2 linked regions of the Homo sapiens genome follow. The protein of the gene in region 2 purifies or fractionates together with the protein of the main gene of each other region. This does not show direct contact. Each region holds a gene or a part of one and is shown on either strand. Other genes may lie near its edges.

The links.
Region 1: the proteins of TCHHL1 (region 2) and PFN3 purify together in Homo sapiens (affinity purification with mass spectrometry; one large-scale study listed by BioGRID and IntAct). This does not show direct contact.

Annotation. Positions count from the first base shown.
Region 1 is NC_000005.10:177,399,477-177,402,254, forward strand, and holds PFN3 (profilin-3), read right to left. Parts: upstream 1,186-2,778; 5' UTR 1,101-1,185; coding exon 687-1,100; 3' UTR 633-686; downstream 1-632. UniProt on the Homo sapiens protein: Binds to actin and affects the structure of the cytoskeleton. Slightly reduces actin polymerization.
Region 2 is NC_000001.11:152,086,156-152,090,628, forward strand, and holds the start of TCHHL1 (trichohyalin-like protein 1), read right to left. Parts: upstream 2,910-4,473; 5' UTR 2,865-2,909; intron 2,009-2,864; 5' UTR 1,989-2,008; coding exon 1,851-1,988; intron 1,389-1,850; coding exon 1-1,388.

The sequences.
Region 1 (2,778 bases), on a different chromosome or scaffold from region 2:
GATGCCAGAGTTCCTCCCTCTAGTCCAGGGACTCCTGCGGGGCCTTTTCGAAGGCCTGGGGAAGGCAGGATGTAAGGTCTCAAACCCAATTGCGATGGTCTTGGACATGAGCCCTCTCAGTAGGCTCCCCTTGGAGGAATGTGGGCAGAGATGCAGAGGCCTGTGAGCCCCAGAACTGCTTTACAAGCCACCAAGCCCATCCTGTCACCCACTCACAACTTGCTAGTGCTTGAGGTATGAGTGGAGGGGGGAGGAGCAAATTGGCCTCCAGCCTGACACCCTGATGGGGAGAGGTGTTCGCGGGATGGGGAGGGGGCTCCCTTTACTTGTCCTGCCTAATGTGTGGGAATATCTCTGAGAAAGGACGCTAAGGCTGAAACAGACTTTGAGAAGCCCCCACCCTTGGACTCTTCCTCAGCTGCGGAGTCCCTAGGACCCTGGGAACGCGCCAAGGAGCAGCAGTCAGGCCAGGAGCCTCTGCAAGGCGTCCATGGGAGAGCAGGGTGTAGGGCACAGGGGCCTGGCAGCCTCTAGACTCAAAATCCCGGCTCCACCAGGTAACCGTCTTGCAAAGACCAGTTTCCTTATTTACAACTCCCCCCACCGCGCAAGTGGAGGAGGAGCCAGCCGCGCCCAGGTCACAGTTTATTTGGCCCGCGCTACCAGTGGGCGGCCTGGCTGGCCGGCTAGGCGCCCTGCATGCGCAGCCCGCGTATGAGTTCGTGCACCGTCTTGTTGAGGATGCCCCCATGTACGCCGCGTCGGCCCATTAGCACCAGGAGCGCGCGCGGCGCACGGCCCACGCACACGGCGCGCGCGTCCAGCCCCTTGGTGCGTGCGTCCAGCACGCCGTCACCCTCGGCCAGCAGGTGGTCGCGGATGACGCAGCAGCGGCGGCCCCCCACGCTCAGGCCCGCCTGCAGGAAGGTGTGCCTGTCCGGCCCCGTGAGCACGCCCACCTCCTGCGGCGAGATGGCCGCCAGCAGGCCCCCGGGCCGCGAAGCCCACACGCAGCTGTTGTCCGCATGGCCCACGATGGCCACGTCGTCGATGCGCTGGTCCCGCAGCACTGCACTGATGTAGACCTTCCAGTCGCCCATCGCGCTCCGAGTGCGCCCAGCCGCCTCGCACCTCTCGGGGAAATATAGAGGCGCCACGCGGGGAAGGCCTGCGGCGCTGTGAGGCAGGCTGGGCGGGGCTGTGACGTCACACAAGGCGCCGTCCCGGAGCGACCACCCAGGCTGGGGCACGTGGGGCGTGGGCGTTTAGTGCTGTCGCAGTTCTAAGGTTATCCTGTAGGATGGGTTTGGCAGAGCGCAGCGGCTCACTCCTGTAATCCCAGCGCTTTGGGAGGCCGAGGCGGGCGGATCGCTTGAACTCAGTAGCGAGATTATAGTAAACTATTATAGGATCGTGTCGCTGCACGCCAGCCTGAGCCACAGAGCGAGGCCCCGTCTCTAAAAAAGCAAAAACAAATTTTAATTAAAAAAAATTTTTTTGAGATGAGGTCTCACTATGTTGCCCAGGCGGGTCAGGAAGTCTTGAGCTCAAACAATCCTCCCGCCTCAGCCTCTCAAAGTGACGAGATTACAGGCGTGAACCACCGCATCTGGCCAATCTATTTTTAATTTTAAAAAGCTGGTTTTGTGAAAAAAGGATGTTGTGTCTGGACAGCCAGACCTTCACTTGTAAGGGAACCAACCATTCAACCCCCAGATTGTGGTTCTTAAGCATGAGAGAACATCAGAATCCCCCGCAAGGCTGTTAAACAGATTGCTGGGCCCCACCCCAGACTTTCTGTTCAGCAGTATAAAGTGTAGCCCGAGAATTTGTTATGTGTAACAAGTTCCCTGGTGATGGTACTGCTAGCCAAGGGACTCTCAGACCCACTACACTAGTGCGTGTTGGGGTGGGGACAACGATATGTCACCCAGCCCTTAGGGTCCACGCCACAGTCAATGCTCTTTTTTTCTATTTTCTTTTTTCTTTTCTTTCTGTCTCTCTCTTTCCCTCCCTCTGTTCCTTCCTTCCTTCCTTCCTGCCGGTTCAAGTGATTCTCCTGCCTCAGCCTCCTGAGTAGCTGGGACTACAGGCGCACGCCGCCGTGCCCGGCTAATTTCTTGTATTTTAGTAGAGACGGGGTTTCATCGTGTTGCCCAGGCTGGTTTCGAACTCCTGAGCAATCCACCTGCCTTGGCCTCTTAAAGTGCTAGGATTACAGGCGTGAGCCACCGCGCCCGGCCAATGCTAAGTATTTCTAACCACGATTCTCAACCTTGGCTGTACATGGAATTATCTGGGGAGTTTTACAAATATACCACTACCCATGCCCCATCCCTAGACATACTGATTTAATTGGTCTGAGGTGGAACTTGGGCATAGATTGGCTCAAAACGCTCCCCAAGTGATCTTAATGTATGGTCTGAGAACTACTGCTCTGTAAACAAAATGTTAGTTTCTCATAAGGAATAACATGCAGCTTCTCCTTGCACAGGGCTTGGTATACAGTATCCTAGGCTCAGTAAACATTAGCTGGGCTGGCATCTAGATTTTGCACGTTAAGATCTCATAGACCTTGTTCTCTGAGAGCTGTGGAGAAGCTGTGAATCGCTTTTCTGTCTTGGCATTTCCCGGCGGGACCCATGAAGAAAAGAGCTTTCCTTCTCAGCATTTTCAAAGCACTTTATTGAGTTCCTGCGCCATCCTGGCGCGGAGCTGGCCGCACTGGGGGAATGGGACACAATCTTGCCTTCCATGCCCCAGCCACTCTCTCACTGC
Region 2 (4,473 bases):
GACTGCTTCTCAAGTGGTGCTAAATCTTGTGTTCTTTCTCTTGCCCCCAGTGTCCTTTCTGCTGCAGGTGCGTTTTTGCTGTTCACAAATGCTTCTGCTGTGCCTTCTTTGGTGTGTTCTGCCTCTTCTCCTGAGACTGCTGTTCCTTCAAGTTCAGGGTGAGTCTGATCTCCTCCTTCTGAGCTTAGATATTGTGTCTCAGAACCTTTTTCAGCATCTTTTGATTTTGATAATCCTTGGAGTTCCTGATACTTCCCATCCTGTGTTTGGGTTTCCAGGACTAGTGGCCGAGTTTTTCTGTCACGTTCTTTCTGCCCTGCTGTTCCATGGGCCTCAGGACCTCTCCTCTCTTTCCTTTCATCTCTCATGTCAGATGTTTCTGAACCATTTCTGCTACCATATTGGACTGGCAGGTCCTTTGTTTCACATTCTTTTTCTTGGGTCTCAGATGTTCTGCCATAATCCTCAGGTTCACCCAAATTCTTTGTTTTAGCTGGTGTCTGGTCAGCATCCTTTCCTGGTTCTTGAGTGTCAAACATTCTACAGACATCCTTGGAATCAGTTGATTTCTGTGTCTGAGATGGTGACCTGGCAGCAGCTTGTTCTGGCAGGTCAGCATGCTGTGAACTGGGCTCATCTTCTCTTTGTAGGGGTGGTTCTTGTATATTAGAGTGTTTTTCCTTTTCTGTTCTAACTTCCTGATCTTCACATGGTCTTTGTGTTGCTTCTTTTGGTGGTGAACTTTGGGTTGCCAAGTTTCCTTCCTGTTCTCCAAACTGGTCTCTTATCTTGGAAACACTTTGCTCTCTGGCTGGTTCATCTCCTTCCTGGGAGATCTCCTTATCTTGTCCCTTCCTCTCTGTGGGACTGCTGGTCTTTTTTGATCCTGCCATTGGCTTATTTGTCTTAAGTTGGCCTTCATTGTCTTCTGTTGTTTGTATATCTTGAGCCACTTCCTGACTTTGTTCATCTCCTTCCAGGTGTTTGTTCTTAGGATCATTGTGTTCAGATGCTTCTCCTGGAAAGTTGTGAGTCTTGGCTTCTCTCCATGGGTCCACTCTGTTATTTCCAACTGCTCCACTTTCTTCAGGGATGAGCTGAGATGATGATGCCATTCCTGAAGGAAGCATCCTCTTTTCTTGAGTTGGTGAAGTTCCCACTGTCCACTGACCATCTCCGGTGGTTGCCTGAACATCCACATCATCTAGCTTCTCCTTCTCTGGTTTAGTCACCTGTCTTAGTTCAGAACTTAGTAATGATTTTATGTCAAGATAACAGAGGTTCAACAAGTTGAAGATTGCAAGAACAAATTCATCAAAACTGATGATGCCATTACTGTCAATATTCAGAAGATTTGAATTTTTTTCCACAGCATGAAGGACACAGGGCTGCATGAAAACACAGTGAGAAATCAGCTTATTTATATGTGGTCCAGTGTCCTAAGTGTCTCCCAAGAATCCTATTTTTCTGACCTCATTCCTCAGTAACTGGTTAACTTTCCCAGAACAGCAAGAACTTATTGGTTCTGCAAGCCATTTTTCATCAGAGAGCTATGCCTGAGAAAGAGCATTTACAACACTTGTGAGTTGCATTTTGATGCATAATGGTTTATGACTCCTTTCAGAAGTCAGCTTTGCAGAAGCAATAATCCCAGTGACGAAAACCTCTTTTTCTCTAAGTAATTGCACAGAGTATGGAACTGAGACTGAAAATAGTTGTTCAAGAGACAGTGAGTGCTGAGAACTGTTAGCTAGGTGTAAAATGGATGGGGATCACATATGCTCATCTTGCTTGGATTATAAAGAAAGGGTGAGTTGGAAAGAATTTACACAGCTCTGTGAGAAGCTCACCTGAAAAAAGTCCCCAAACTCGCCCTGGATGAGTTGTTTCAGCTCTCTGCCAGTCAGTGTTGCCCCGTTACTGTCCTCACTGGCATATTTGTGGAATGTCTCAATTACACAGAGGACATTTCTCAGGAGCTGAGGCATCTTTACAAACTCAGGAGAGGCTGTGAGAAAGAATAAACAAAGCTCATTTTCCAGGATGGGTCCTTCAGGGAGGAGATACCAAGATTATCCTTTTTGTTCCTCCCCCATCTCCACTGCAACCCCTGCTCTATTCTGTATCTTAAAATATTATATCTGAACTCCAGGGGTGATTTAGTATTGTACCAGACATTGTGGTGAAATCAGACCCAGCATAGGTAAGTATTAGAAGAGACAATTCACCCCACTCTTCAGTAAACAGCAACATTCATGTGCTCAGAGAAAGCTTCATTGCAAAAGGAAGGTGATAAGAGAACTCAAGCATAAGGATTGAAATGCATAAATGAAGCCAATAGAGTTGGACCCATTCTTCCAGCCTCATCCAAGAGTGTCTATCTGCTCTCCTCTCCCTTTGGCTCAGTCTAGCCTCCTGCGGTTAGGAGGGTATAACCTTTAAAGTTAGCAAAGCTTCTAGTGGAAAGATAAGTCACACCAAGAAAATTAACCCCTATGTTTGCAGGTGGTAACAACATGCTTTAACCAAGAAGACATGATTCCATGTCCCGACCCCTTATTCATTCATTTCCCATCCTTTAAATGCTTCTACATTTTCATTGCAATAGAGATCTGATCCTGTGCCTTGTTGAATAATATTCATGCCTATGACTTCTAAACAATTTATGTTTTTTTTAAAAAGAAAATGATCAAAGAAGTTCCATAATCAAGGAATGCATTTGGGTGGTTGGCGCTCCCAGTTTATTATTATTAATAGGGGTTGACATAGACTTAAAGTGTGTTTCCTTTGAAATCCTCTTGCAATCTCACATATAAGCAAAACAGCAACTGAAATCCCAAGTATGCTCAAGCAGATGGACTTACCTAGTTCACAAGCGAGAGCAGGTAGAACGTGGGGCAGCGGGCTGTGAGCTGACAGCAGGAGCTGGAACCTTTTATTGAGGTCCTAATTGCACAGTTAAGAAGGAGACACCCTCTGGGTCTAATGACCTGACATCACCACCAAATCCAGTCTCCCCTGCTCTGTTGTCAGTTGTCTTAATTTTATTTCCTTCTTTAGGCAGTTTCAATTAAATCTTAGCTTCAGATGCATCAAAAGAAAGGGGAGGGGGTTTCTTGATTCATTTACTGACTTTTGCAGATTATAGTTTTGAAGGCTCTTCAAGGTAGTGTTGGCTTCCCTCCCCCATTTTTTAACCTAAGGACATAATTACATTTCTGTCTGACAAATCATAGTGCTGGCAGGGACCTCATAAGTCATCTGATTCCTCTGTCTGCCCACAAGATGGCCCGTATTTGACCCAAACCTGAGAGATGGGTGTCAATCATGTGTTTAAAAATAAAGGCCCCCATTTAGCCATGTGACAAAAGTGGAGATACCAGTTGATTCAGATGTTTCAATGCTTTGCTCTCCTTGCCCAGAGGCAGAGTTAGAAAAAAAAAAAAATTCTTGCTTGGTGTGCAAAGCCTTGCTTACCTATGTTGTGCTATTTTAAAAACGTGATTGATATTTGCTTTCTAAAGACATTTTTACTATACAAGGAGCTTGAAACCAATAATCTATATTACTGTGTTCTCCCTGTAAAGGGGAAAGGGAGATGTTGAAATCATCAAGCTGAGAACAGAAGTGAGTCTGAGATGCTGAACTGGCAAACATTTTAATTGTCTCCTAGATCTGGGTCCTTCTTAGTAGAGAATATTTAATAAAATAAGAATTAGATTCAATGGTTTTCTTAGATATTTTTAAAAAATAGAGTATGTTTTAAAACACTCCTTGTCAAAGGATGGAAGAAATAGACAGATCAATGCAAACAAATATAAAAGACACAGACCAAGTTAAAGATGGGGTGGGAATGGGGGTAATTATATGAGAAAGCTGAAGCTAAGGGATGCATTGCTATTGAGCAAAAACCTTATTCTGAATTTCCTGATTATCGAGGAACATACAAGGGAACTAAATTTTGGGGAAAAACATTCATACTGATACTTTACACCTACAAACAATTTCTCAGCATCCTCCCAAAGGGAGAAGACTTCTGGGAATTGGAATTGGCATGTGAAGGTCATCTTAGTTCTGATTAGTTAATATCCCCAGAGTACCAGCTATTTCTCAACACTATGCCAGGAACTGGAGTGTTTAGAGTTGAGTAAGTTATATCTTCCTGCTCTGGAGCTCATGGGCCAGTCTCATGAAGAACTGGGTATATTCAAGGCTGGATTGGAAAGAAACACTTATGGGAGACATAATAACTGTCTTCAAATACTTGAAGGATTTTTATGGGTGTGGAAGAGAAAAGAATTAATGTTTATTGAAAACTTATGACATGTCAGGAGCTTTACATGGGCTATCTTAATCCTCACAGCCCTTTTAGGTAGTTATTATCCTCTTTTAACAGATAAGGAAGTTAAGGCTGTTAAGCAATTTGCCTACAGATATGTACCTTTACTAGGTAATGGCAGAGTCAGGATTCAG